Linked DNA regions of Homo sapiens: all the other regions are reported to be linked to region 3. The links are microRNA targets in miRTarBase. Many come from high-throughput screens and were not tested one by one. Region 3 holds a microRNA gene; each other region holds the end of a gene's coding sequence.

Region 1 (4,060 bases), not on the chromosome of region 3:
GCTGATACCCTAGAACTTCCTCCTCAGATGTCCCTTCCTGCTCCCAAATGCCTCACTGCCCCAGGGGTAGTCACTCTCCTGACTTCTTTGGCCATCACCATAACAAAGAAAAGCTTTGCCTCACTGGATAGTTACCACCCTTGCACGTATCCTTGAACACTGCAGTTTCGTTTTACCTGTTTTTGGACTTTCTGTGAATGGAACTGTACAGCGTGTACTCTCTTGTCTCACTTGGCAGTATGTTTTTAAGAGTTTTCCATGTTGATGAGTCATCCACATTGTGGTGCCTTCCACCCTCACCTTCTCTAGCCCAGCCGCGATGTGCTTGCTTCTCCCCCTCTTTGTGTCTCTTAATCCATCCTTGCTTCAGACCCCCGCCCTCCTGAGGCCTCCTCTTCCCCTGCGCCCTTGACTGGACTTCTCTTCCCCATAGCCCCATTGTGCTGACTGTGGCCAAGTGCTGGGATCCCTCTCCTCAGGCCTATTTCACTCTCCCCCGAAGTGAGTGACACTCAGGGAGGGGCCTGAAGTTGGGGGTGGGGGCTGCCCAGGAGGCTGGGGCCGGGCCTGTGGTCATGGGGAATGGGTGGGAGGAGGGTCCAGGCAGAGGTGGAACAGGAGGCTGAGTCAGGGAGGGACTGGGCTGGCTTTTGGGGACTGAGAATGGGTCATTTTGGTGCCATCTTTGTCCCAGATGAGCCCATCCAGCCAATTGACCCTGCTGCCTGGGTGTCCCATTCCGCGGCTCTGACTGGCACCTTCCCAGCCTATCCAGGTTCCTCCTCCATGAGCACCATTACATCTGGATCGTCTTTGCCTGATGGTGAGCCGCCAGCCCACCTCATCCCACCCTCCCAGCAGAAGGCTGTCCCGCAGTGGTCTGATCCATTGCCCTTGTGGGAGCGATCCCTGACTCTGGTTACCCGTTGTCTCCTCTGCCAGGCTGTGAAGGCCGGGGTCTCTCCGTCCATACGGACATGGCATCGGTGACCAAGGCCATGGCAGCTCCAGAGTCTGGACTGGAAGTCCGGGACCGCATGTGGCTCAAGATCACCATCCCTAATGCCTTTCTGGGTATGGCTGGGTCCTGGGCAGGTGGCTGGAGAAGGGGAGGAGGTGGTGACCAAAGCCAGGAATGGCACAGGCAGAGGCGAGAGCAGGAGTTGGAAGAAGAACCTGAGGCCTTTTTCCACTGTGGGTGCTCCCAGGCTCGGATGTGGTTGACTGGCTCTACCATCACGTGGAGGGCTTTCCTGAGCGGCGGGAGGCCCGCAAGTATGCCAGCGGGCTGCTCAAAGCAGGCCTGATCCGACACACCGTCAACAAGATCACCTTCTCTGAGCAGTGCTATTACGTCTTCGGAGACCTCAGTGGTGGCTGTGAGAGCTGTAAGTCCCCCTGCCCCAACTCTGGGAGTGTGGCTTTGCCTACCTTGTTCTGCCTCTCCAACCCTAGACCTAGCCCAGAAACCGCAGCCAGGGCCACCATGGATGGTCGAGCAGTGTGTGTCCCGCACTAGGTCCTGCACTGGCCGAGGATGGGGGCTGACGTCCACCCATGTGCTGCTGGACAAGCCATGTGCCAGGTGCAGGACTGTGTCCACCGGGGGAAGGTGCACCTCTTACCTGAGTCCCGCAAAGACGTGGGCTAGTGGCTGTGCCCCTGCCCTCATGGCAGAAGTAGATGGGAGTTTCTTGTCAGAGACCCTTGTGAACCCCTGTTTTGAGCCCCATCGTGGGTGGGTCTGGGAGAACTGTTCCCAGTTCCTCTCCATTCGGTGTCTTGGGGCCCTAGCCTCTTGAAGCAGTGATTTCTTCCTCTCTTCCCTTGCTTTCCAGACCTAGTCAACCTGTCTCTCAATGACAACGATGGCTCCAGTGGGGCTTCAGACCAGGATACCCTGGCTCCTCTGCCTGGGGCCACCCCCTGGCCCCTGCTGCCCACTTTCTCCTACCAATACCCTGCCCCACACCCCTACAGCCCGCAGCCTCCACCCTACCATGAGCTTTCATCTTACACCTATGGTGGGGGCAGTGCCAGCAGCCAGCATAGTGAGGGTAAGTCATCCCCACATACCTGTACGGCCAGGATCTGAGGGTGGATGAGAGGGGAGCCAGGGAGGAGCCTGGGTGAGGACTCAGTTGCCCCTCCCCTCCCTCCACAGGCAGCCGGAGCAGTGGGTCGACACGGAGTGATGGGGGGGCAGGGCGCACGGGGAGGCCCGAGGAGCGGGCCCCCGAGTCCAAGTCCGGCAGTGGCAGTGAGTCTGAGCCCTCCAGCCGAGGGGGCAGCCTTCGGCGGGGTGGGGAAGCAAGTGGGACTAGCGATGGGGGCCCTCCTCCATCCAGAGGCTCAACTGGGGGTGCCCCTAATCTCCGAGCCCACCCAGGGCTCCATCCCTATGGACCGCCCCCTGGCATGGCCCTCCCCTACAACCCCATGATGGTGGTCATGATGCCCCCACCTCCACCTCCAGTCCCTCCAGCAGTGCAGCCTCCGGGGGCCCCTCCAGTCAGAGACCTGGGCTCTGTGCCCCCAGAACTGACAGCCAGCCGCCAAAGCTTCCACATGGCCATGGGCAATCCCAGCGAGTTCTTTGTGGATGTTATGTAGCCCACTGTGGGGCCAGGCTGGGCCGGGCGCTCCTGGTGTGTGACTGGGTGTCCTGGCCGTCATGTGCTTGCTCTTACAGTGCCTGGGCTCAGCCTACCAGCTGCTGCCATACAGGAGATTGTGGCCACTGTGACTCTCACCAGCAGTGCCTGGTTCCTCCCCCTTCCCTCAGGGGTAGACAAGGGACCTTTGATTATTTTTAGCTTTGTTTTTTTATAAGCCTTTTTGGGGGTTAAAATAGAGTTTCTTACATTTTTGGGACTTTTTTAATAGGCATTTCCTCTTTTATATGAAGAATTCCCATCCATTGGGCCCCTTCTAACCCCAGAATGTGACCTCCTCCTCCAGTTACCCACAGCCCTGCCCTTTGCAGGGTTGGGGGTGGTCAGCGGTACCCCGGGGTTAGGCATCCTAGACAGCAGCCTGAGGAAGCTGGGAGATTTGGGCCATGTAGCTGCCTTTGTTACTCTATTTATTTTAGTCACTTGTATAAAACACCAAATAAAGCAATAGAGGCAAACTCCCCACGCCTCTGGCTCCTTTCTTTGGGAGGGAGGCAGGCAGCAGGGGGAAAGAACCGTCACACAGGAGCAAAGCATGACTGGCTAGAAATTTTTATTATTTGCGAGGCAGTAAGTGCTCTTGAGAGCAGGCACAGTGCTGGGAACACTAGGCCCCTTCGGGACAAACCAGGGCCTTAAGGAAAGGGGCTTCGGCTTTGGCTTGAGGGAAGGCACATAACTGGGACAGGCCCTGGCCGGGAGTATTCAGAAGCCAAGTGGGTTGCTGGTGACCACACCACCCCGCTCCACCAAGGCCTTGGAGATGCTTTTGAAGTTGCGGTAGAGCTCTTGCTGCCAGGGGTCAGACTGCAGGGCGGCCATGCCCTCTCGGATCCGAGCTGCAGCCTGGGGAGAGGGAAGGAGGGGTTGGGCCTGCACCTCCAGCCCTCACCTGAGCTTGGCAGCCCCGAGTCTCACCTCGATACACCAGGTGTCACAGAGCATTTTCTCATGCTGGGCCGTGGGGTGGCCCTCACTCAGGGATCTTGAGGCCCTGGCAGGAAGCAGGAGATGAAAATAAATCTGGGCCGGCTGGGATCCAGGCCCAGGCCCCCTGCGGCTCAGGCATTCCCTGCCTGCCTCCTCACCTCGAGAGAACCACCACCATGGCATAGAGGTCGATGGCCCCGTCTGCCAGCCGCTGCAGCAGAAACTGTTCATCTGTCCGGTAGGTGGGGTGGGGGTGGGGGTGGGGGCATTAGTCTCAAGGAGAGGAAAGGGAGGGGCGGAATGGTGTAGAGCTCACTTACTGACAATCCCCTTCTTGTGTTTTATCAGCTTGGCCTCCACCACAGTGGCAAACTGCTCCAGAGCCCGTACTGCCTTAAGAGATGGGGACAGTGCGGGGCTCAGAGGGGCCATCGGCTGCAGTCCCTGATGCAGGC
Region 2 (4,067 bases), not on the chromosome of region 3:
CCCACTTCTTTCCCCACCCCTTCCCAGGATATCCCCTTCCCCAGGGGACTGAGAGCTGTTGTCCTACCATGCTGGGGGGCAGGGGCTTCTCCAGAGGGTCTGGCGGGCAGACTGGACAGCAGCTACAGGGAAGGATGCTTCACACTCGAGGTCCCTTCCCACAGGGGCAGCAGCGGCTCAGAGAATAGAGGAAGTAAGATTTTTATACCAGCCTAGTAGCTCCCCCTCCACTCCACCCTGCCCCCAGTGAGGAGGACAGGGTCCCATGAGTCAAAGGCCATTTGCATAGTCAAATGGCAGACAGCTCCTTCACCCCTTCCTCTTTCCACTCCCCTCTCAGACAGCCTACATCCCATGAGGGCCTCACACCTGTCCTCTACCAAGCCCAGGGAGGAGCTAAGGCCCAGAGCTCAGGCAGAGAGCAGGGAGAGATGGGAATTCTGGATAGCACCAGTAGCGGGTACACCTTGCTGGGCACTCCCCATTCTAAGAGGACACTTCCACCCTCAGGTCTTGGCTCCTGCACCACAGCTGGTGCCCTCAGGACAGCGGCTGCCGACTTGTCCTTTTCTGCCCTTGTAGGCACCATCTCCAGAGTTCTGCAGGGCCTCATGCGTGGAGGGCCAGGGTGTAGCTTGAGCAGGAGGCTAGGCTGCACCTGCCTTCACCACAGCCTTGCAACATCTTCCGGAAACAAGACCTCCTCCTCCACATTCCCAGAGCCCCTGGGGCCCCATCAGAGCACACACCACGTCACTCCAGATGGGGCTCCTAGAGGCCAGGTGTGTGCTGGCCCAGCAGGGCCGCCAGCCAGTCCTCCCCATCAGTTCTTCCCACTCTCCTTCTGATCTAGGTGAGGAGACTCAGATTCCTCGGGCCCAAAGCCTTGGGTGACCCCGGGCCCCTCAGCAAGTTCTGCTGGGTCCACCATGCTGAAGGGTGTGCCCACAGCCCACCGTCCCCATGTCCACCAGCCCCCATCCTCTCTCCTAGACCCATGCAGGTGCCACCTCCCTTCTGGCTGTCCTGCCCTGCTCTCTGCCCTCCAGGGGCTGGTCACATTCAGCCCCTAGAGGGAACTGTTCAAACCTAAGTCACACTAGGTCCCTCCTCTGCTCAGACCCCTCCCTGGCTGACTCTGGAGTCAAAGCCACAGTCCACAGATGGCCAACAAGGCCCTATGGGACCTGCCACCCGCTGTTCCCCTGAGTGCTCTCCAGGCCCACTGGCCTGCTTGCAGTTGACTGTGTAGCCCCTGGGCATTCTCCTGCCTCAGGGCCTTGGGATGTGCTGTTCCCTCTGCCTGAAAACTCCCCCAAGTCTCATATGACCCCTCCTTTGCCTCCATTATGTCTCTGCTCCCATGTCACCCTCTCAACAGGGCCATCCAGCCTTCTTACAAACCTCCCACCCCAGATCTGGCACTCCTGAGCTCCTTTGCCTGGTCTATGTTTCTCTTTGTCCTAACATTTTTTAACTGCTAGCACACCGGATCATTGATCTTTCATGGTTTATTGTATATCGTCTTATTCCCCTGCTGGAATGTCAGCTTCTTAAGGGCAGTGATCTTTTATCTGCATCCCCAGGATCCAGTACAGTGCCCAGCACATAGTAAGTGCTTGATATCTGCTGAATTATGTACACCCAGCAGTCAGCTCTGGGCAGGCACAGAGAGGGTATTTCTGAGTGAAGGCTGAATGAATGAATTAATGAATTGTTGCTGCTGGGAGGAGGCAAGGCTGCACATCTGCCAGCCTGCTCCCCCCAGGCCCACTCTGGGTGGTATCATGGCAGGCAGGCTCCATAGTGCCAGGCATCTGGCTGGCTCAGCAGCAGGGGGCGATGGCATCGTCTTCCTGCCCACCTGGGAGCCAATGTTTCGGCTGGGCAAGGACAAGCCTCCTCTGGGTCTTAGCTAGTCTGGCTCTCCTCTCTACAATTCTAGGGGCTTGAGCAGGGGCTCAGAAAGGCGCCAGGGATAGAATGTTGCCCTGAGCCAGGAAGGAGAGCAGTGCCCACTCAGTAGCTGGGCTGCAGGCATCAACCCCATGCTTCCACTCCTGCCTGCCTGGGGTGGAAGGCACCTGCATTCATTCCCTCCATCCACCTCTCAGAGGGATACACCAAAGCTCGGGCTCCTGTGGAGCCCCAAGCCTGAGACTTTCCCAGAGTCCCTTGGACCAGGGACCCAGACCCCCATACCCAGCAGTGGCCCTGCCTTCTTTGGAGGCAGAAAACCAGAGAGGCCAGTAAGCTGACAGAGGGGTCTGCACACACAGGTACAGACCCACGCACATGGACACACTCAGCTTGGAGACACCGATATCGATGTCCACAGAAAAACTTGTCCTGGCCTCAGCCCAGGGAGGCTGGGAAGCCTTCGAGGAGGAGCCCTTATCCCATGTGGGAGGCTGCATAAAGTCCCTCTCAGAGATCCTTGTCCTAATTCCCCAAACCTGCAAACACGTGACCCCAACACCCCACAGTGTGGCAAAAACGACTTCGCAGATGTGATTAAGTTACCCATCTTGACAGGGGTAGGTGGTGGGGGCAGGGAGGGTGAATGCAATTACAATGTCCCTTATGAAATGGAGACAGAGGGAGATTCGACTACAAAAGGCCATGGGAGCCCAGAGGCTGAGGAAAGCAGAATCAGAGATGTCACCTCTGGCTTTGAAGGTGGAGGAAGGGGCCCCAAGCCAAGGAATACAGCCAGAAAAGGCCAGGAGATGGGTTCTTCTGAGGGGCCCAGACACAGCCAGCCCTGCCAACACCTCAACTTTGGCCCTGTGAGACCCATCTCAGTCTTCCAGCCTCCAGAACTGTAAGAGAATACATTTGAGTTTCTTCGAAGCCACTAAGTTGGTGGTAATTTGTTACGGCAGCCTCAGCAAATGACCATATGCAGATCCCTCATGTCACAGTGGAGGCGCGCCTGCCTCTCCAGCAGGGCTCCTGTTGACTGGGAGACCCGCGTGAGGCTGCACGCCCACTCACAGGCACAGCCTCTCCCACACACCTGGAGGTGGAGTGCTGGGGCTCCACCTCGCAGGCCGGCACTCCCCTCTCCCCTGTTGGGAAAGGACAGTTATATGCACAAGACTGCCCAATTCCCAGGGCCAGAGGCGGTCTCTCAGGGCCAAGCACAAGTCTTGATTTAAAAATATTTTATTCTTTAGAAAATACAGCATTCAACCATCCCAAACTGCAGTGACCCCTGCCCCAGCCCTGACTGACCCCACTTCTTGTGGCCAAAGGTTTCTGGGCTGTGCTGGGACCCTAGTCTCAGCTCCCCGGGAGGCCAGGTTCATGCCAGGCCCCTGACCCAGCCCCCTTAAGCCAGCCAGGCAGGGTCCCCGGACACCCTGGGCACACAGACGAGATGCAGGGACAGCAACAGGGAAGGGTCACAAAATGCCAGCCCGGTGGCCCTCGGACGCTGCAAGTGCGTTCAGCTGCCAGCCCTCCTGACCTCCCAGAAACACTTTCCTGGAGCCCAGGAAGGAGGATGGTGGCAGGGAGCGGAAGGTGGGCAGCCCCACAGTCCACACGTGGCCGGCCCTGCTCCAGCCTCCTAGCTGTCATCCCCATTTTCACCCGGGCCGCGGATGAGGCGCTTATGGCCCCGCTTGCCCCCTGGGCCCTTGGGCTTGGCGAAGGCCTGCTTGAAGGCGTGTTGCTTGGGGTGCACCTCGTCGTAGAGGAACTCTGCCGTCAGCTCTGCCCCATCGCCAATCTCAATCTGCATGGGGCAAGGCAGTGGTCACCCCAATGGGAGGGGCTCTGACACACACCACCCCTGGTAGCCCCCACTCCTGGGGCACCCCTTACTCTCACATCCTAGCCCTGGGGTCTCCTGAGGTCTCCCCTTGATTCCCCACCTGGAATGCCACTCCCAGGAAAGCAAGAGCTTAGGGCCTGCTGCCCTGCATGCCTTGGACTCTGCTCGCTGGGGTCACCTCCTCCCTGTCTCCAGGCCCAGGGAAAGGACATGACATGGTAGCCAGGACTTGGACTTTTCTGAGCCACCGATCAGCTGGGCAGCCTTGGGCCATGCGTGTTGCTCC
Region 3 (4,067 bases):
TGGACCGCAGGATGAACAATCAATAGGCAGAAAGCAAGATTGAGGCTTCCTCAGCTTTTGGATCGACAATCGACAGCTGAGAGGCTATTTTTTGCTATGGTTGACTAAATATGGTCAGGGAAGAGAGAGGCACAAGAGAGCCTGTTTGCCTGGGAGTGCATGTTTCAAATGCTTAGCTGCCTATAAAGCTGTAACAGTTTAGCCAGTGGTCACTGAGGAAGAATATAAGTTAGCCTCGTAGTGACCATGTGGAAGTCCTGACCTCGCTTGCAGACTTGACCTCTGGATGTGACAAGGTAGCTTCACTACAGCTCTACTATTTAATCCTGGAAACTAAAAACCAAAAAAAAAAAAAAAAAAAATCTAAAAGCAAGAAAGATGCAGACTATTTCCTAAGAAGTCAGAAGAACCCAATGTATTCTGGAGGGCAAAGAAAAACAGGGTGAATGTTTACAGTTATTTGGGGGGAGTAAGGTGTGTTTTGGGTTCTGTTTTTGTTTTTTTTTTTTTTTGTCTTTTTTAGACTATAAAATTAACTTCTGCAACTTTTTCCCCTCTTCTGAAGCATTTCATCTGACAAGCTAGGTTCATTTTCTTGGCCTTTGTAGCAACCTTTTTTGATTGCTTAACTTTCCCTATATAACTGTGCAAGACTGTTATATGACATTCCAAATCAAATGGCCAACACTGATTCAATTTTAGAGTTGTTTTTGTTGGTGGTTTTTGTTTTTGTTTTTGTTTTTGGTAAAGGGAAGAGGGGAGGAGAGGGAAAAGTAAGCTTGTTTTTTGTTTGCTCGTTTGTTTTTCAAATTTATCTTAAAAGGTGAGGTTCTGTGTTCACTGATACATCCCCTTCCTTCACCGGGCTCATGAAAAGAAATGCTGAATCAGCAAATAGAGTGAACGAACAATCAAGATGAGATGGCTGCTGTTGATGTGATTCTCTAGGTTACTACCTTTCTTCCTGCTGCAAATGCTGCATGACACTAAGCTTACAGGTAACAGAGCACCATAAGGCCTGTACTTTTAAGGATGCTTATGACTTTCTGCATGCTTACCTATTATTGACTCAATATATGTTCTCATTGTTAAATTAAATTCTATCTAACCATAGCCTAATTTCACAATTCAAGTTAAGAGCTAATGTAGTGTAAAAAGGAATATTGTTCAGATACTATGGCAGTAACTTTTTATCTTAAAAATGTACAAATACATTATTGTCATTTACATTATTAAAGATTTAGTCATTATTGTTTCAGATTAAGTGATGATTTTGCATCTCTAGTAAGTCACATCCTGCTTCCAAAGTATACTTATTTTCTAAAACTATTAGCTTCTATTTCAAGGTTTAGTCAACCAAGAAACTTGGCAGATCATAAAATACTTTTTAATGCTTACTAATAATTGGCCACAAAAATAAATCAGAACGTGCATGGTGTAATTCTAATGCTGCATTGCTGAAACTGCTGTAGTGCTGGGCTATCTACTGCTACATTCTGATTTGCTCTCTATAAGCTGCACTAGCTTTTTATCACAAGCTGCAGAAATTCTACTATCCCTGCCCTTTTTTTTCCTCCTTTGACAAATCTGAAAATTTCTTGAGGTTTTAAATTAACCTTCTAATACCACAATAACTGAAGGCTACTTACCAACTATAATTTCTTTTCATTCTAAACTATCAAGGTAAATAAAACCCAGGTGCTCACAGACTAAAACCTTTCAGTTCTTTGAAGTGATACTTTCTAAAAGTTGACGATTCTGACAGTTATCCTTTATACTAAAAAGATTAAAGAATCAAAACAACTTAAACTCACCAAAATTAGATATTTCTACATCTATTTGAATTTGTATTCAACTCATATTTGTATTTAACCCAAAGAGAAGCATCAAAGTGCAAACTTCAGGTAAGGAACTAATAAAGAAAAAAGAATGACAAATTTTCAAATGATCACGAGTTCTTATCTGTGACCTTATAAAACACTAACAAAAATTCATAATCTTTAAAAAAGTTCAATTCACCCACACTCATCCTGGTTTTTCTCCTTGTTGTTTCAACTTCTAGAGTCAATATCAGAAATACTTATTGGTTAATTTGTTAGGTTTTGAGTAAGATATCTAGTTTGTAAAAAAAAAATTGAATTTAATTAATTACTATCTACCTGTAGGATCTAGAAGCAGACTACAAAAAAAGAAGAAATTCACTCTGAAGACTGAAGAAACACTAGGCTGATCTTAAGTTTCCGAAATACACTCTGTAACACTACACTGATTCTTTGAATCTCTTGCAAAAAGAATCAAACCAGGACAAAGTTCAACAGATAACTGGTCAAATGCTTAGGAATGTCTATGTCCACCAAGAATATGGAACCATTAATGCCATGCTTCAGGTAAACTTGTTACAAAATTTAGTCTTCGATAAATTAGTCTCTGCAAATGATTTACCATTGCTCTACATTAGTAAGCTGAATGTTTCACTAACAAATAAGAAAATAAAATATTTCATGTTTTTACAGCTAACAACTTAGTAATACCTACTCAGAGTACATACTTCTTTATGTACCCATATGAACATACAATGCTATGGAATGTAAAGAAGTATGTATTTTTGGTAGGCAATAAACCACCAAGGGAGAATTAAACTGAGCTAAAAGAAGCTCTTGCTTCTTTCTACGTGAATGACCGTCATATGGTAAATTAACCTAGTCATGAACAGATGACCTTTGGCAATACTAACACCAAAAAAAAAAGGTTATCTACTACTGATAGATAGAAACTATCCCTAAGGTTTTTATTTCATGAAGGAAAAGAAGATCCAGTGAAGTAGATTTCAATTATCATGAAACTCCTTTTAAATCATCTAAGTTTAAAACAGACATCTTACATTTTTAAATTAGGCACTCTCATTATTAAAATTTGACTGCAAAAGGGAAAATAGTATTACTAGCACAAAAGAATGAGGAATACACATGACCTATTTTCTGTCTCCACAATTTAATCTTAAGTATATCTCATTAGTAGGGCTCACTGATTTGTACAGAAAAATAAGATACTAAGAGCTGGCTTCATTCACATAATAAGCTATTTCTTCTCATTTTGATAAATGTATAATTAATATTAGAGGAATTTCTGACCAAAAGTTTTGTTGTTTTAAAAAGGCTTTCTTTTTTGACAGCTACAAACATAGTGGCCCTTGTCCTTCCTTCTCAAGTTTATCAGGGTCTTAACCCAAATCTCTACTTTAAATGTGAAGTTAAAACTTAAAATTAATTAAAATGTAAGATTTAAGCATGAAAAATGACAAAATTCTGGTCCACAGCTGTAAGTCAGCAGGGTATATTGGTAACAGACTACCAAATATTTAAAAGAAATTAATTTATCTGTATTATCTTCGAATTTGCTTTCTCCAAAGAGGGCATGTAAAATGAAAGCACTATAGTCAAGAACCAATTTATACAGATCGAAGAACTGTTTTTATTGTACTATGCAATTACAATTCAATTTCTCTAAACTTGATCAATCCATTGTTTAGAAATATCAAAATACTTTTATTTCACACAGTTTGTATATTATTTATAAAAAATTCCAAATAATGCTCTTAGCAAAATTTATAAGCAGTACCTGTTTTAAGCTACTAATGACAAAGTTAGAAAATAAGAGTAATATTCACATATTCTAACCATTTCTTACTAAAAGTATTATTTCAACTGAAATATTTACACATGTATAAAAGCATAATATTTTAAATTTTTTGTATCAGAAATTGAATGGAAATGACTAAGTTTAACTATAGTTCATTTTCTGTTTAATAAGACTAGTTAATACAAAGATGATTTTCATTTTATCAGATTATAAAGAATGAGAATGACTTACACATGGCATCATATGTGTTACTGCATGTTTACTGGAAATTATAAAAGGCACATAATTTTAAAATTCTACACTTTCAAAGAAATTAGTTCAAAGCTTAACTCACATAAGCATAGCCCTTCTGATCATCCACAAAACAGAATGGCAATGATTCATGTTCTATTTGGTAAGTTTACCTGTATAGGTCCTAAATACCAAGA
Region 4 (4,067 bases), not on the chromosome of region 3:
CATTTATTGAATACTTCACTGAAAGTGAAAAACAGAATGGTTGTACGAGTACTCAAAATGCTGTTTCTACTGAATGCGTATGGCTGTTGCAACATCGTAAAGTCGAAAAATTGTAAGTTGAACCATTGTATATCAGGGACTGTCTGTATTTATGGGACAGCTGAGTTGAATGTAGAGAAGGGAAGTTTTAAAATGAAGCAGAATGGGTTGTGTTCCCAGGATTCCAGACCTCAGAATATGGGGTAGGAGATTGGGGTGAAGATGAAATGATCTTTGAGTATCATCTACAAGACTTTCCTGAAGGAAAAATAATCTCTAATATGAACTTGTTATCCTGATTTGTCTCTTGCAATTGGCAATATTAAATTGTCATTCATTAAGAGTTCTGATTAATCAACATTGAGTTAACTTTAGTTTCCCCGCAAGTAAGAATGCATGACTCCATCCTCTACATTTTACAGGCCAGTTAATTAATTTAAAATTCTTTATGAGGTGAAATCAAACCTTTAGGCAATCAAGATATTCCCCAAAACATACCAATTCCTATGAAAATATATTCTCAGGTGCCATAATCACCTGAAAACTGCCCAATGTAGTGTTCTACTGCTGTTAATTCTTAGCCAGTCATATTGCTAATGTATTCCAGGACTCCTATCTTTGGATATAAGGATTTATCCTGACTTACTTTTCTGTAGTTGCAGTTTTTAAAAAATTTGTGATCATAGATAAATTATTATCCTAAATATTTTAGGGGGAGGTTATTTTCACCGTTTTCAGGTTCAGTTTTGGCTACTGGGTCCTGTCTTGTTATAAACTCATTGCAATTATTTTTGTTGTCTTGAATACCTGCTTCAATTTACCTTTCTTATGTAACGCAAGAGCTGGGACTAGGAGTCAGGAGAAATGCATTTCAGTTGGGTTTGCCATTTACTAGTGGGCACATCATTACCCTCATGGGGACTTGGGTTTTCCTGTCTGTCAAAAAAGAGGATTAAGAAGGTAGTGTAGGCTGCACTCTCTTTGAAATATTACTCTTCTATATGTTAATATGTCTATACGTTTAAAAGTTCTGTTGCTTTAGTTTTTAAACAGTTTGTGACTGAGTGCAAAATTAGCTTCCATGAATATCCTTTTCCTCAATAGCAGTACTAAAGGGCAAAAAATAGTTTTGTAGAAATGTGTGTATTTGCATGCTTAAGTGGGCTCTGATTTATATTGTGCCAAGTACCATTACTGACAATTAGGTATGCTTTGAAATGAAATTATGACTTAGAAATATATGTGGCATATATTCTACTCCAACTTACAAACGAGCTTATGGGAAACTTTTAAAAAATTCCACAAACGCTGCTAACATCTAAGAACTGTATAAATCAATTTACAGTTTTTTTTTTGTTTTTTTTTTTTGCATAGAAATAATGTTCACATCTCTCAACTTTGGAACATCAGATAGTTTTAAACCTCATTACTTCACGTCAAAACAATAATAATCATAATGGCAGCTCACAAGTAGAGTTCTTTCTTACTAGATGCCATGCTATGTACAAAATGTTTTATGTGAGTTATTCTTTTGCCCTACTTTAAAATCTCCACAGCCAAGATGCCTATTTAACATGTATCTAAGGGAAACCTTCTTGTTCAATTGGTATCACACACACACACATGCACAGAATAAGCCCTTGTGAGGAAAAGAAACAAGGAGAACAGAGTCTTTAAAAAATAACCACCCAGGATTAATGTGACAGATCTAGCAAATTCTTTTTATTTACATAAAATGTGTACACATACTTTCTCTGTACACAGAAAATTCTAAGTATATATATATAGATATATGATTCCCACATATTTTACAATAAATAATATTTTACTCTTGTTTCTAGGTGAAAATAAAAAGATGTTTCAAAATATTAATCACCAACCACAAAATTACAAAAACATGTGGTGAACTCAGAGCAAGAACTTCAAGCCTGTACTACCACACACTAAGCTTAGTACAATTTTTACAAAAGACAAAAATTGAACACTGCAGATATTACCGGTAAAAGGAAAGAAATGAAGATAGAGAACAGAGCTCTTGGTTTTTTGAACAGTGTGGTAAGAGTATTTCTTGTTGTTTAGGACTTCTCTTCCTTTAGTCCTCAATTTAATGTTTTACTTTAATTAATATTTTACAGATAAGAAGGGAGAAAGAAGTTAACATCTATTGTAAAAGGAGTGACCATTCCATGAGCGTCCTGAGTTCTAGAAGCCTTTTTCTTGGCCAACCAGACCCCTGTTTCTGTTCTAATTTAATGATCATTCAGTTCTACCATATAGGACTGCTATTCACCCCCACAGGGAAGATGAGAAGGGCACTGACTGTGAAGTGACATTAATTTGAAAGTCATTTCAAAAGTCTGGTAAGCCAGGTATCTTGGTTGTCAGCACTTAATAATTAGAAATGTTTAAATATAACTCTCTATTTCCACATAGAGTTTGATCTCTTATTCAAATATTAACTAAATGCAAGGGGAACTTAATCTGGGAGGCTAGAAATAATGAATCCATAATCCTGAAATTTCCTCCCTCTACTTCCCACTTTTGTTTTCTATTCTAGTCTAGGAAACAAGCACTTTCACTCAACTTCAGAGCTGTTCTACACATGTGTAAAGAATCACACTATCGAATGAATTGAATAAAGCTCTAAGCTATAGGATGCATACAAATTTTGTCATTTTTTGATTAATTCCACAGCATTTGAATTTATCAGAAGAGTCTAAAAACATCATGATTTTTGTTATCGTTCAACAAACTTATTCTCAGATTTGCTTTCCCATTACATCAGTATTCAAACTCAGGGGGAATCATAAGAATGGTGACCAACACAGGGCTAAGTGCTCAAATCACATTCCACGCAACTGTAGCTCAGATGATAAGGAACTTGGTTCCACTGTGGCACTGTAACTTCACACATGAATTTTGAAACAAATTTTACCTTTTTTTCTCTCATATCAATAACAGCACAGATGGATGGGGGAAAAGATAGAAATATAAAAAAAAGGGTCCAATGTCAAAAACACAATTCATCTATCAAATACAATCTTTTCCTTTACCGCATCTGCTGTTTCTGCGGTAACCTTCCAAAACATATTTCAAAGGCAGGCTCATTTCAAGAGCAATGTTTGTCACATGCATAATTTTGTTCCTTCTTGTCACATATTGCTATCATTGATGTTTCTTTCAGAGAAACAATAAGATTTCTAGAACTTAGTCATCTTGCATGAAAGTGATGGTTTCATAAACAGTTTAACTTTTTAGATAAAGGTACCTACGATAGAAAGAAACAAATTTCACACTTAAAGATGTCTCTTTTTCTTTTTTTAAATTTGAAAACCTGATAGGGAACTATTGTTCACTGCCAGAAACAAAAGGGATCCTTTATCATAAAGAGCTGGGCTTGTTTCTTTGTCATTCTAATCAAATACATATGTATCCCTCATTTCCACCACAGCAGGAAGATCAGCCAGAAGATAAGTATGGGGTCTCACTATGGTAATTGTAGTCAGGGCACACCTTTTGCACGAGTTTATAATCAACACTGTAAAAGGCAATGTAAATGCAAATGACCTTGAAGGGCTTGGAGCACAACCAAGACACATGGCTCTGAGTCTGCTCCTGGTAGCAGATCTTGGATGGGTCAAAGTTGCACAGGGCGGTCTTTTTCGCCCGATCTGTTTTTTCATACTCAATGCGACAATTGAAAGATTTGGATTCCTTGGTCTCCAAGGTAGACTGGGGGGAAACTTCAAATTCCACCACCTTGGAGGGTGGTACCAAGCTCACTGAAACATTGCCCAGGCCTGTTGAATTATGTCGGAAATACACACTGAAGGTTCCATTTCCATGGTCAACAATTTTCCCTGTGATGAGGAGATTGAGTTTGACAGTTTTAATGTTGGAATGAAAGTCACCCCATCCAAACATTTTCTTAAATTTTCCTGTTTTTACTATTGGCCTCCGTTTAGTTCTTGCCAATGGCTCCTGAATCTCCGTGATGTTGGCCAGCCAATCCCAAAAGTTTTCCATGC
Region 5 (4,062 bases), not on the chromosome of region 3:
GGTGTGGTGGCGCATGCCTGTAGCCCCAGCTACTAGGGAGGCTGAGCTGGGAGGATTGCTTGAGCCTGGGAGGCAGAGGTTGTAGTGAGCCCTGATTGAGTCACTGCACTCCAGCCTGAGCAACAGAGTGAGAACTTGTCTCAAAAAATAAAATAAAATTAATAAAATAATAAAATAAAATGAAAAATAAATGAAAAAAAAAAACCCTACACCTAGGCATATCATATTCAAATTACAGAAAATTAAAGAAAAAGTCTTGAAAGAAGCCAGAGGAAAAAATATCCTCTAGAGGAGCAAACATAAGAAATTCATCTGATTCCTTTTCAGAAACAATGCAAGCAAGAGAGTGCAGTGAAATATTTAAAGTGTGGAGGGAGAGTATACGGAATTATTCAGGGGGGGCCAATTTAATCACTTCAGTCCTTACAACAGGGAGGCAGGGAGGTCAGAATGAAAGTGATGTGATGGATGCAGAGTTGAAGATGCTAGGCTGCTGGCTTTGGAGAAGGGGCCAAGAGCCAAAGAATGCAGGCAGCTTCTAGATGCCAGAAAGACAACAGATACTTGGCCGGGCGCGGTGGCTCACGCCTGTAATCCCAGCACTTTAGGAGGCGGAGGAGGGCGGATCATGAGGTCAGGAGATCAAGACCATCCTGGCTAACATGGTGAAACCCTGTATCTACTAAAAATACAAAAAATTAGCCGGGCGTGCTGGCGGGCGCCTGTAGACCCAGCTACTCGGGAGGCTGAGGCAGGAGAATGGCGTGAGCCTGGGAGGCGGAGCTTGCAGTAAGCCGAGATCGCACCACTGCACTCGAGACTGGGCAACAGGGCAAGACTCCGTCTCAAAAAAAAAAAAAAAAAAAAAAAAAAAGACAACAGATACTCTTCTAGAGCCTCAAAATAATAATAATAATAAAAAAAGCCAGCTCTGCTGACACTTCATTTTAACCAGGTGAGGCTTATTTTGGAATTTTAACCTCCAGCATGGTAAAATAATAAATTTGTAAGGTTTTAAGCAACCAAATCTGTGGTAATTTCCTGCAGTAACAGGAAATTAATACATACACATCTATAGCATAATAGATACTATATTTGCACAATGGAATAATATACTGCAGTAACTATTGATAAATGCAACAAAATGGATGAACCACAAACCTGATATTGAAAGATACCTGGCACTAAAATAATATTAACTCTGTAAGATTCAATTTTTATAAAGCTTAAAAATAAGCCAAACTTATCTGCATATTTGTAAGTTACGCAGTGGTTACTTGGTGGGTGGGGATACTGATTGAGGGGGCACACTCGAAGCTTCTGTAAGTGCTGGGTAATGTTCTGTTGCTTATTTTGGTGCTGGTTATATGTGGTCACTTTGTGATACTTCAAACCATACACTTGTACATTTTTTCTGTATTGTATACTTCAATAAAGTTTGCTTAAAAACAAAGTTTTAAAACAAATTTCCTTGCAAAAAATTGTACAAAAATAGGTTTCAGGTTTTGTTTTTTTTTTTGAGATGGAGTCTCACTGTCACTGGGGCTGAAGTGCAGTGGTGGGATCTCGGCTCACTGCAACCTCGGCCTCCCAGCTTCAAGCGATTCTCCTGCCTCAGCCTCCCAAGCAGCTGGGATTACAGGCGCCCACCACTATGCCCAGCTAATTTTTTGTATTTTTAGTAGAGACGGGGTTTCACCATGTTGGCCAGGCTGGTCTTGAACTGACCTCGTGATTTACCCGCCTCGGTCTCCCAAAGTGCTGGGATTACAGGCGTGAAGCTTTCAGATTTAAACATGATCTATGCAAGGTCTTAAGATTAAACTAAATCCCAGAGTGAACAATTACAGTAAACTGAAGTAACAACTCAATTAATTTCAAGGATTTTCTAGTACACATTCAATGTCTCACACACACAGAATGAGTTGGTTTATGCATGCAAACAAGGTAGCAGATATATCCAAGTACACCAAATACTGTCAGCAGTTTTCCTTTTTCCATTAGTTCCACTTACTTCATCGAGTACTGATTTAGAGAGAATCTACACCACCCTTTTTGCAGAACCCTTTCTGGACTAAAGATTTTATCACTGGCATTGTTTATCTCAAATATTTTATCAGATAAAATGTTTTCATAAATTTTTGTATGCCCATGAACACCATTTTATCCTCATATACATGCACGTGTGTATTCGTTTATCTCTTAGGTCAGAAAGCTTAATAATTATATTATTAATTAGGTCGAAAATTTTAAATTAGTCAGCCCTCTGTATCCGTGGGTTCCATATCCATGGATTGAACCAATCACAGAAGGAAAATATTTGAAAAAAAAGTTGCATCTAAACAGGCACTTTTTTTGTTATTTTCCTCTGAACAATACAGTATAAGTATATACATAGCATTTACAGTGAATTAGGTATTATCATCTAGAGATGATTTAAAGTAAACAGGAGGATGTGAATGTTATATGCAAATACTACACCATTTTATATCTGGGACTTGGGCATCTGTAGATTTTGGTACCTGAGGCAGGTCCTGGAACCAATCCCTCATGGATACCAAGGGATGACTGTACTAATGAATCTCATTTATTAGCTGACACATGTAAATTTAAACATAAGAGAATGCAACAAGTTATTTGAACCTGAATGCAGAGAATAAATACTTTATTAACTGATTACAGTTGAAAGTCACAAACAAAAAAGGGGGTATATTAAGGCAAAGCCATATATATATATATATATGTATAGACAAATCCAAAGATTGTTACTTCTTTACATTTTAATAACCTCTGCATTTTTCTTTTACACATTTAGGCAGTGTGCTTTCTTTTCTCCTCAGTTAAAGCAACACCTTGGCCAATATTTCTAAATCATATTTTGATGACAACTTACAGGATCAGTGATTGAGACAATGACTAGTGTATCAAACGCTATCTGATAGTTTTCTTAGCATATTCCGTGTGTGGTGGTACATTTATTGTGGTGTGCAAAATCTGACAACTGACGATTTTTCTCTGTCAGCAAAACTAACAAATTTTTAAAAATGATTTTAATAGTTATAACTAAAATAAGCTTAGACTTCCAAGTCAGTCAAATGCCCAAACTGCATGTTTTCTGCCGTTCCCCAAATCCTTTTACATGTTTTAAATAGCCTTTAGAATATGATCGATCACATGGCTGTATTTCAGATCTAAAAGTTTTGAGATTTTCAAAATCAAAAATTACTTTCTTATGCAAAATGGCAATGCAAACAGCAATCCTACATAATGTAGAATAATTTTTCTTCTGTACGGCTCCTTCTAAAAAATGGGTAACCACACACACACACACACACACACACGACATAAATTTAGTCCATCTGAAGAAGCACTCCAGCTTTCTAATTCCACTTTTGAAGGAAAAGGCAGAGGCATGTTTACATTATCCCAGAAAACAGAATAAATGGCTTTATTTGGTATCTTCAAGAAGCTTCTCCTTCCGTAGGAGATGTAGGTGTTGTGGGAGAAACTGTAACTGGTTTTCGTGTAATTCTGTCTAGTTCTGCATGAACATCTAAGACAGGCTTCTGGCCTACATTGAAGAAAAAGAAAAAAAACAAGATTTAGATATAAGTGAAAGTATCGTTTTCACCAATATCTCTTCATTTAAAAAGTCCTAACACTTTCATTAACTTTATTTAGCACACTAAGTTATACAAACAACACTTAATTTAAAAATTTCAAGCTGGGTGTGGTGGCTCACGCCTGTAATCTCAGCACTTTGGGAGGCCAAGGTGGGAGGATCACTTCAAGTCAGGAGTTCGAGACCAGCCCGGCCAACATGGTGAAACCCTGCTGTAATCCCAGCTACTTGGGAGGCTGAGGCAGGAGAACTGCTTGAACCCGGCAGGTGGAGGTTGCAGTGAGCTGAGATCACACCACTGCACTCCAACCTAGACAACAGAGTGAGACTCTGTCTAAAAAATAAAAATAATATAAATTTCAAGAAAAAACAAATTCCCTCATTTTAAATTGTGGATCTGTTACCAAATGGAGGTATAACTGGCACCTATCATTTAATCT
Region 6 (4,067 bases), not on the chromosome of region 3:
CAGCGCCCACCCTTGAGTCAGGGTGCATGTGAGCCGGCGGGCTGGGCTCTCTTCTCCCGCTGTAGCCCCTGCAGTTCCCAGTGCTGTGGGGCCGGGAGGCGGGTGCCCAGGTGTGGGCCCCCTGCTGGTCACCTGCTCGTTGGGGTGCCCATCAGCATCACTGAGTCACAGCCGGGTGACTCCCACTGTCTGTGCTGCAGGGGGCCTGCCGGAGCTGCCCGTGGGCCCAGCACTGCCCAAGGCCTACGGCACAGGCTTTGTGGGCTGCTTGCGGGACGTGGTGGTGGGCCGGCACCCGCTGCACCTGCTGGAGGACGCCGTCACCAAGCCAGAGCTGCGGCCCTGCCCCACCCCATGAGCTGGCACCAGAGCCCCGCGCCCGCTGTAATTATTTTCTATTTTTGTAAACTTGTTGCTTTTTGATATGATTTTCTTGCCTGAGTGTTGGCCGGAGGGACTGCTGGCCCGGCCTCCCTTCCGTCCAGGCAGCCGTGCTGCAGACAGACCTAGTGCCGAGGGATGGACAGGCGAGGTGGCAGCGTGGAGGGCTCGGCGTGGATGGCAGCCTCAGGACACACACCCCTGCCTCAAGGTGCTGAGCCCCCGCCTTGCACTGCGCCTGCCCCACGGTGTCCCCGCCGGGAAGCAGCCCCGGCTCCTGAATCACCCTCGCTCCGTCAGGCGGGACTCGTGTCCCAGAGAGGAAGGGGCTGCTGAGGTCTGATGGGGCCCTTCCTCCGGGTGACCCCACAGGGCCTTTCCAAGCCCCCATTTGAGCTGCTCCTTCCTGTGTGTGCTCTGGGCCCTGCCTCGGCCTCCTGCGCCAATACTGTGACTTCCAAACAATGTTACTGCTGGGCACAGCTCTGCGTTGCTCCCGTGCTGCCTGCGCCAGCCCCAGGCTGCTGAGGAGCAGAGGCCAGACCAGGGCCGATCTGGGTGTCCTGACCCTCAGCTGGCCCTGCCCAGCCACCCTGGACGTGACCGTATCCCTCTGCCACACCCCAGGCCCTGCGAGGGGCTATCGAGAGGAGCTCACTGTGGGATGGGGTTGACCTCTGCCGCCTGCCTGGGTATCTGGGCCTGGCCATGGCTGTGTTCTTCATGTGTTGATTTTATTTGACCCCTGGAGTGGTGGGTCTCATCTTTCCCATCTCGCCTGAGAGCGGCTGAGGGCTGCCTCACTGCAAATCCTCCCCACAGCGTCAGTGAAAGTCGTCCTTGTCTCAGAATGACCAGGGGCCAGCCAGTGTCTGACCAAGGTCAAGGGGCAGGTGCAGAGGTGGCAGGGATGGCTCCGAAGCCAGAAATGCCTTAAACTGCAACGTCCCGTCCCTTCCCCACCCCCATCCCATCCCCACCCCCAGCCCCAGCCCAGTCCTCCTAGGAGCAGGACCCGATGAAGCGGGCGGCGGTGGGGCTGGGTGCCGTGTTACTAACTCTAGTATGTTTCTGTGTCAATCGCTGTGAAATAAAGTCTGAAAACTTTAAAAGCATTGCTTTTGTCCATCCTCACCAGCGCGCTGGCCCGTTGGCTTCTTGCTCCGCTTTGTGGTGGGAGCACGGACTTGGAGCTCCCTTGGGTGGCCCTGGATGGAGCCAGGCCCTGCACAGGGATCCTTGTGGCTGATGAGGCCCTGAGTGGGGAGCACACACTGCTGAGCACTGTGGGAGGCGGGGCCGTGGAGGCAGGAGGCTCTCTGGCGTGCACGTGTGGGTGCGTGTACGTGTGGGGGTGTGTGTGTGTGGGTGCGGGTACGTGTGGGTGCATGTGCCTGCTCTCTGGCGTGCACGTGTGGGTGCGGGTACGTGTGGGTGCGGGTACGTGTGGGTGCATGTGCGTGTGGGTGCGTGTGCCTGCTCTCTGGCGTGCACGTGTGGGTACGTGTGGGTGTGGGTGCGTGTGCCTGCTCTCCGGCGTGCATGTATGGGTGCATGTACGTGTGTGTGGGTGCGTGTGCCTGCTCTCCGGCGTGTATGTGTGGGTGCGTGTGCGTGTGGGTGCGTGTGCTTGCTCTCCGGCGTGCATGTGTGGGTGCATGTACGTGTGTGGGTGCGTGTGCCTGCTCTCCGGCGTGTATGTGTGGGTGTGTGTGCCTGCTCTCTGGCGTGCACGTGTGTGTGTGTGTGTGTGTGCCTGCACACATAATTGGCCCACATCTGTGTCAGAGCACAGGGTTGGGAGGAGGCTGCACCCAGGACTGGAAGGGTCTGGGGGGAGCCAGGGTGCGTGGGGCTGTTGGGCAGCCTTTTCACTGGCCCAGGTGTGCAGAACCAACCCTTGGCACTGCTGGAAGCCCCTAACTAGAAACCCCTGGGGTAGCTGGGCTCCTGGACTCCCTCTAACCTGCTTCCTAAATTAGTGTGTGGGTGACAGCACTGCAGAAGCTGAGCCTCAGGGAAGGGCGCGGTGGCTCACACCTGTCATCCCAGCACTTTGGGAGGCTGAGGCTGGAGGATCGCTTGAGGCCAAGAGTGGGAGATCAGCTTGGGCAACATAGTGAGACCCCATCTCTGCAAAAAAATTTCTTTAATTAGCCAGGCGTGGTGGTACACACCTGTAGCTCCAGCTACTCCGGAGGCTGAGGCAGGAGGATCACTTGAATCCAGGAGGTTGAGGCAGCAGCAAGCTGTGATTGCACCACTGCACTCCAGCCTGGGTGACAGAGCGAGAACCTGTCTAAAAAACAGAGCTGGCACCCAGCACCGGCAGATGTGAGCCCTGGGGAGAAGCAGGGGAAGAAGGGGTAGGGTGTGTGGCCAGCTGGGTGGCCCTTCGCAAACTGCTGTCTCTTATGAAAAATAACTAAGTGTAGTTTTCTATTTTGTATTAATGATTTTAAAAAAAAAGCCAGGTGCGCTGGCTCACACCTGTAATCCTAGCACTTTGGGAGGCCGAGGCGGGTGGATCACCTGAGGTCAGGAGTTCAAGACGAGCCTGGCCAACATGGTGAAACCCTGTCTCTCCTAAAATACAAAAACTGGCTGGGCATGATGGTGGGTGCCTGTAGTCCCAGCTACTCCGGAGGCTGAGACGGGAGAATTGCTTGAACCCAGGAGACGGTGGTTGCAGTGAGCCGAGATCACGCCATTGCACTCCAGCCTCAGTGGCTGAAGGAGACTCCGTCTCAAAAAAAAAAAGAAAAAAGAAAACCACAAAAACATCGAAATAAAATAACACCAATGGCTGGGCACATTGGCTCATGCCTATAATCCCAGCACTTTGGGAGGCTGAGGCAGGCGGATCACCTGAGGTCAGGAGTTCAACACCAGACTGGCCAACATGGTGAAACCCTGTATCTACTAAAAACACAAACATCTGGGCGTGGTGGCAGGTATCTGTAATCCCAGTTACTCGGGAGGCTGAGGCACGAGAATCGCTTGAACCCGGGAGGCGGAGGTTGCAGTGAGCCGCGATTGCACCACTGCACTCCAGCGTGGGCGACAGAGCGCGACTCCGTTTCAAAAAAAAAATGAAAAGATAATACCCACAAGCTCCACACCCAGGAGGTCCCATGCGTCTGAGTGTTTGCTTTCTGGGCTTTTCATCACCTGGTCCTCTGGGGATATGCTGACCGACCCTGTGTGCCTGGCAGGTGTCAGGCACTGGGGGTCGGGGAGGAGAGAGTCCAGGAGCGGTGGCCACACACAGGTCGCTGACGGTGGGGGGCCAGGGTGGGGGCAGACTAACTTTGGTTTTCAGGAAAGGTCCAGAGAAAACACGCCCAAACCCAGACCCGAAGCATGAGCAGGGGGAGGGCAGGTGAGGAGGCCAGAGGCGGGGCATGTGGTGTGGGTCCATTGGACGGTGTGCAGGGCCCTGTGGCTTGACAAAGGGATCTTTCAGCAGGAAGCGGAGGCGTAGGAGCGGCCAGAGGCCAGCGTGCAGGACAGAGGCCACAGGTCAGAGCAGCAGAGGCTGGACAGAGATGGGCAGGGCAGGTCCAGTGGGGCTGCGTGGGCCTGGGGAAGAGAGCTGGGGGTGCTGCCTGAGGAGCTGTGGGAGGCTCCTGGAGGGCTCCAAGCAGGAGGCCACCAGATTTCATGAAGACGCCCCTGGCTAGGAC
Region 7 (4,067 bases), not on the chromosome of region 3:
CTTTGGTGAGTAAAGTCTAAAAATAATAATTAAAAATTCTTGGTTATATTCTATTTTATCCTATAGACATTTACTTAACGATGCCATGAGATAGCCTCCTTATAGTCCTTTTTTCTTCCCCTGCATTTCTTCTCTTTCCTCTTGAGGGGATGGGTCTGCTAGCACTGTCTACAAGGCTGGGAGGCAAAGCTTTCAGAAAGACTGATTTTGGCTTTAGTACCCAGAGCCTTCTAGCAAGGTTTGCCTGGGCATCTGTTTCTGCAGACCTCCAGGGGCCCTCTGGCTGAAATAGTCGTGCTTAACTTAAGTGTTCAGGCTCCAGAGATGCTACAGCTCCTTCTGTGATCTTAGGTGAGTCACCTCCCTTTTTGGGCCTTGGATTTTCACCTGGAAAGACAAAATGTTGCTCTTTCTTAATGTCAGCAAGAGTTCTCCTGAGGGAGCTCTAGATTAGTCCAATACCCAAGCTGTGTTTTGGGGGAGTACAGGCAGTATCAAAGCCAGTGGATCCATCAAAAAAGATGCCAATCTCTGGTGGTGCAAATGAAGTACCTATTAGTAGGTGTTCCCTCTGCCCTGGCAAAAGTTACCACATTCCACCTAGAGTTCTCTGGTTTCTGGAGTTCTGAGATCAAAGCTTGCCTGGGCTATCAGTGTAAAGAGAGAAAGCTGTCCTAAGTGGGTTTCCAGAAACCATGCTTTTACTGGAAACAGAGCAAGAAATGTGACAGACCATCCCATCAGTTTACCCTTCAAGCTGATGTGGACTGTAATATAATTGAATGTTTCGTCTTCATGTTTGAAAAATATTAATTTTCTGTGAGTCTCCCAACTTATTTACTGCAAATCCTCATGCCCTAGAGTGTCTACATCATCCCTTTCATTTTTCCTACTGGATACTGAAGCAGGAAGCATGGGAAAGGGGGGCTCAAGGGTTTGACTGATGAAAAACCCAACCAAAACTCATCAATCTGACTTACTATGCTGTCCTTTGGACTGTTTTGTTCAGTGGCTTCTCTGATTCTGACTTCCTCTTAAATGTATTAGATCCATGTCTTCTAAGCTCAGATCTTTATTTTTTTTCATGCCACTTCAACTTCTTTATGTAATCTCAAACTCTTTCTCAGAGGTATGAAAGAAACTCCCCTCAACTCCCTTGTTTCATAGATGAGAAAACTCACGATAGAAGGAAATTGAATCGTTTGCTCAAGATTAAATACTGGCCAAGTTCAGACCAAGCACCTTGTCAACATGGGCAAAACTTCAAAATTTTCTTCAGAGTCACGCACTGAGAAACAGTTTATGGATAAAGTAAGCTTTATAAACAATTCCCCAAAGACATTGGACTGTGCCTTAAAGAGAAAAATGAGGATCAATGAGGACGGAGACTCTGCACAGGACATTGATTACGCATGCCTGAAGACTGTTATTTGAAATCCTTCTGATGTGTCACTGTTAGGACGACAGTGATCACTACATGCTAATATTTGTTAAATGCCAGGAATTCCTTCAGACACTATTAGAGAAGGGCAAGGAAGATTCTCGAGGGCTAATCAAGCTCTTAGAGAATTCAGTTAGTAGTGACCATTTGCAATACTGCAATTGCAATACTGTGCTCTCCAGTGAGCTGACAAGGCCAGCCAAGGCAAAGTGGAGAGGAAGTGGTGCTTTGTGGCAGAGGACCTAGAATCAGTACCTGGTGTCTCTACCTCCATGGGCACACGGCCAGTCCTAGGCTATCACGAAGAAGCAATGGTACTCAATGTTCCTTAAGAAACAACATCCTTAATGTGAGAAAATAAAAAGCCATTGGAAACCTCTACTTGCTCTGAGCAGGCCATTTTCTAAAAGCAACTTTGGTATATAACTTTGTATAATTAGGTATGTTTTGGGGGGTTGTCTTGCCATTACTTCCTTCAGTCCATTAATATGGATAAAGCATCTCTCACCACACCATCAGCTTAAACTGTTGAATCCTGCCTAATAGCCTGAGCCAAGTTAATGGATGAAGTCCCTGGAGAATTTTTCAGGTGAAGGAGAAGCAGGAGGCTGCTACCCAAGAGAAGACAGAGGTGTTAAAGCTGCTTTTTTGTTTTGTGTTTTTACCTCAATGCAGTATAAAATCAACATTTAAGATACAGATAAAATTCTTTATATAATTAGCTTAGACCGTAATATCCTTCTAATTGTCACTTTTCTATGAAACCGTCTTTAACCATTTATTTGCCTTTATGGTACTTAATCACGTTGGCCCACTCCTTACAAATTTCAGTAATGATTCCAAATCAGTACAGTAAGGAAAAAAATATTTATTTTCTAAAGTCATTACCTTGACAGGCAAAACAAAGCATGTTCTCAATTTCATTTAGAAATACATATTTTAAAAATACATAGACCAATATGGCCTGCCCAAACAGATATTTAACATGGTAAATATAAGGAATAAATTGTTTGAATATAAATATCTATAAAAAAATAAGTACATCAAAATTCAATCCAACCTCTTTCATTAGCCGGTTATATAAAGGAAAATAATTTTACTGCTTTAAAGCGTAACAAACACTTACTTTTCAATATATTTCATAAACAACCCTATACCATTGTGTCTCCAAAAATCAAGGACAGGGAATCTCCTGATTTAATGATCTTTTTTTTCTTATGGATCAGAGCTAGTAGATTACCATGAAAATATTATATCTACTGCTGACACATTAGACCAGACTTCTACGAGGCTAGGATTTAGTATGGGGGATGGAGGAAGGGGCAGCAGGGGTGGGAAGAGTTTGGGGAGGCAATAATTAAATGTGGGAAATACTTCTGCCAGAGTGCAATATAGGTGAGGTAGACTCATATTCATGAAACATATCCTGATTTATGGTAGTAACAGTTTCATTCAGTTTTGCATTTTACAAATTTAAACAAAAGTCTTTCTTTTTTTTTTCTTTACTTGCATGTTTGTCTTTTGAGTGTGTTTTCAATTTGTGCATTCCTTAGAAAATCTTTGTGTGGACTTTGGAGTTTCTCCCTGAAATGTGCCAGGCGCCTGAGTCAGACACAAACACTCCCTTAGGACCTTCGTCAGAAACTCCACCCCTGTGTGGAATCTCCTTCCTCTCTCTCTCTCCGGAGGATGCCACCCGAATTCGAATGTGACTGTGTGTTTCTGCTGAGAGGTCCATTGTCATCCCCAGATGAAAGAAGAGACCAAAGCAGTTACCACTGATGGAAGCCAGTGAAGATGGTTGGGGGAACTCCTTAACCTTTCTTGGAATGTTTTGAACGAGGACGCTGGTCCTTTGCCAGTCAGGAACCAGCAGAGGATGCTCCTGCTCTGATCCCAGCCAGGGTGGAGAGTGCAGAGTCGGCCACAGGGCTCTCCGTGGAGGCTATGGCTTCAGACAGGCCCCGAAGGTCTGTCACCAATGTGCTCGGTTGTGGGTCACATAACGCTCTCTGGAGGGCTTGCCTTTCAGCTTGGGATCATGAAAAGATGATTTGACGCTGTTTCTCATGGTCTCCGACCTAATAAAGCAAGATAAGAGAAAACAAATGTTATTTTAAAAAAATCACCCTTTGGCAAAAGAAACATGTAAAATTAGAATCTGGCACAAACAAAACCTGAATCTGGTTGTGAACTTTCACCACCCGCCGCAACTCTTTGATAAAACCTCAAGTGATATCTATTACCATTGTAAAAATAAAGCCTGCCCCTATGCTTAGAATGGGAGCGAGGGGTCATATGGTCAAGTCTAAGGGGAAGTGGGCAGTAAATACAGGTTTTAAATAAACTAGAGTTGTTCTGGTTTCTTCCGTAGCCCCATCCCAACCTTCATCACTATGTGACCCTGCCTTGAGGAACTCAGCATAGGTTTTGAATAGTTATGGCCATCTTAATAAATTGACGGTGACTTAGTTGAAAAGAGAGAAAAAGAAAAGAAGCATACAGTAGGCCCAGAGCAAATACTTTATGGCAATTATTTTTAAAAAGATTTTTTTTTTTTGCAGGCCTAATGTTTTACAGGAGAAATACAGAGGGAAGAACTGTAATGTTGATTTAATAGTTGGCA

The links. Region 3 holds the annotated microRNA hsa-miR-1-3p (UGGAAUGUAAAGAAGUAUGUAU, at 2,582-2,603, shown strand). A microRNA usually pairs through its seed, bases 2 to 8, with sites in the 3' UTR of a target mRNA and lowers its output. Matches are read on the target gene's strand: a 7mer-m8 pairs with bases 2 to 8, a 7mer-A1 pairs with bases 2 to 7 and ends in A, and an 8mer does both.
Region 1: miRTarBase lists ACADVL as a target of hsa-miR-1-3p. The part of its 3' UTR that is shown has no 7-base or 8-base seed match.
Region 2: miRTarBase lists TWF2 as a target of hsa-miR-1-3p. The part of its 3' UTR that is shown has no 7-base or 8-base seed match.
Region 4: miRTarBase lists NXPH2 as a target of hsa-miR-1-3p. The part of its 3' UTR that is shown has no 7-base or 8-base seed match.
Region 5: miRTarBase lists DYNC1LI1 as a target of hsa-miR-1-3p. The part of its 3' UTR that is shown has no 7-base or 8-base seed match.
Region 6: miRTarBase lists AGRN as a target of hsa-miR-1-3p. The part of its 3' UTR that is shown has no 7-base or 8-base seed match.
Region 7: miRTarBase lists EDN1 as a target of hsa-miR-1-3p. Seed matches in the 3' UTR shown: 8mer at 3,267-3,274.

What each region holds. Positions count from the first base shown.
Region 1 is chr17:7,224,418-7,228,477 of GRCh38, reverse strand. ACADVL (acyl-CoA dehydrogenase very long chain) reads right to left here. Exons shown (of 20, transcript NM_000018.4): 17 at 3,926-3,998; 18 at 3,764-3,836; 19 at 3,594-3,669; 20 at 3,212-3,521. The coding sequence ends at 3,381. DVL2 (dishevelled segment polarity protein 2) reads left to right here. Exons shown (of 15, transcript NM_004422.3): 10 at 434-501; 11 at 695-823; 12 at 943-1,074; 13 at 1,209-1,388; 14 at 1,839-2,057; 15 at 2,165-3,136. The coding sequence ends at 2,613. Among named protein-coding and RNA genes, the nearest start is that of MIR324, 3.1 kb to the right of the region's middle. RefSeq lists an enhancer at 3,023-3,522.
Region 2 is chr3:52,225,460-52,229,526 of GRCh38, forward strand. It overlaps TWF2 (twinfilin actin binding protein 2), which reads right to left. Exons shown (of 9, transcript NM_007284.4): 9 at 3,153-3,742. The coding sequence ends at 3,575. TLR9 (toll like receptor 9) reads right to left here and starts at 186. Exons shown (of 2, transcript NM_017442.4): 1 at 68-186. The coding sequence starts at 70. RefSeq lists enhancers at 1-65, 318-819, 576-665, 820-1,319.
Region 3 is chr18:21,827,551-21,831,617 of GRCh38, reverse strand. It overlaps MIR1-2 (microRNA 1-2), which reads left to right and starts at 2,530; the gene lies at 2,530-2,614. The region is part of intron 12 of MIB1 (MIB E3 ubiquitin protein ligase 1); the gene reads right to left. MIR133A1HG (MIR133A1 host gene) reads left to right here and starts at 212. Exons shown (of 3, transcript NR_110369.1): 1 at 212-296; 2 at 824-998; 3 at 2,166-4,067.
Region 4 is chr2:138,667,424-138,671,490 of GRCh38, forward strand. It overlaps NXPH2 (neurexophilin 2), which reads right to left. Exons shown (of 2, transcript NM_007226.3): 2 at 1,734-4,067. The coding sequence ends at 3,499. Among named protein-coding and RNA genes, the nearest start is that of LINC02631, 68 kb to the left of the region's middle. RefSeq lists an enhancer at 3,212-3,935.
Region 5 is chr3:32,523,338-32,527,399 of GRCh38, forward strand. DYNC1LI1 (dynein cytoplasmic 1 light intermediate chain 1) reads right to left here. Exons shown (of 13, transcript NM_016141.4): 13 at 2,637-3,571. The coding sequence ends at 3,462. Among named protein-coding and RNA genes, the nearest start is that of MIR548AY, 19 kb to the left of the region's middle.
Region 6 is chr1:1,054,624-1,058,690 of GRCh38, forward strand. It overlaps AGRN (agrin), which reads left to right. Exons shown (of 36, transcript NM_198576.4): 36 at 201-1,493. The coding sequence ends at 358. Among named protein-coding and RNA genes, the nearest start is that of RNF223, 18 kb to the right of the region's middle.
Region 7 is chr6:12,295,417-12,299,483 of GRCh38, reverse strand. It overlaps EDN1 (endothelin 1), which reads right to left. Exons shown (of 5, transcript NM_001955.5): 5 at 2,290-3,522. The coding sequence ends at 3,417. Among named protein-coding and RNA genes, the nearest start is that of EDN1, 7.1 kb to the right of the region's middle.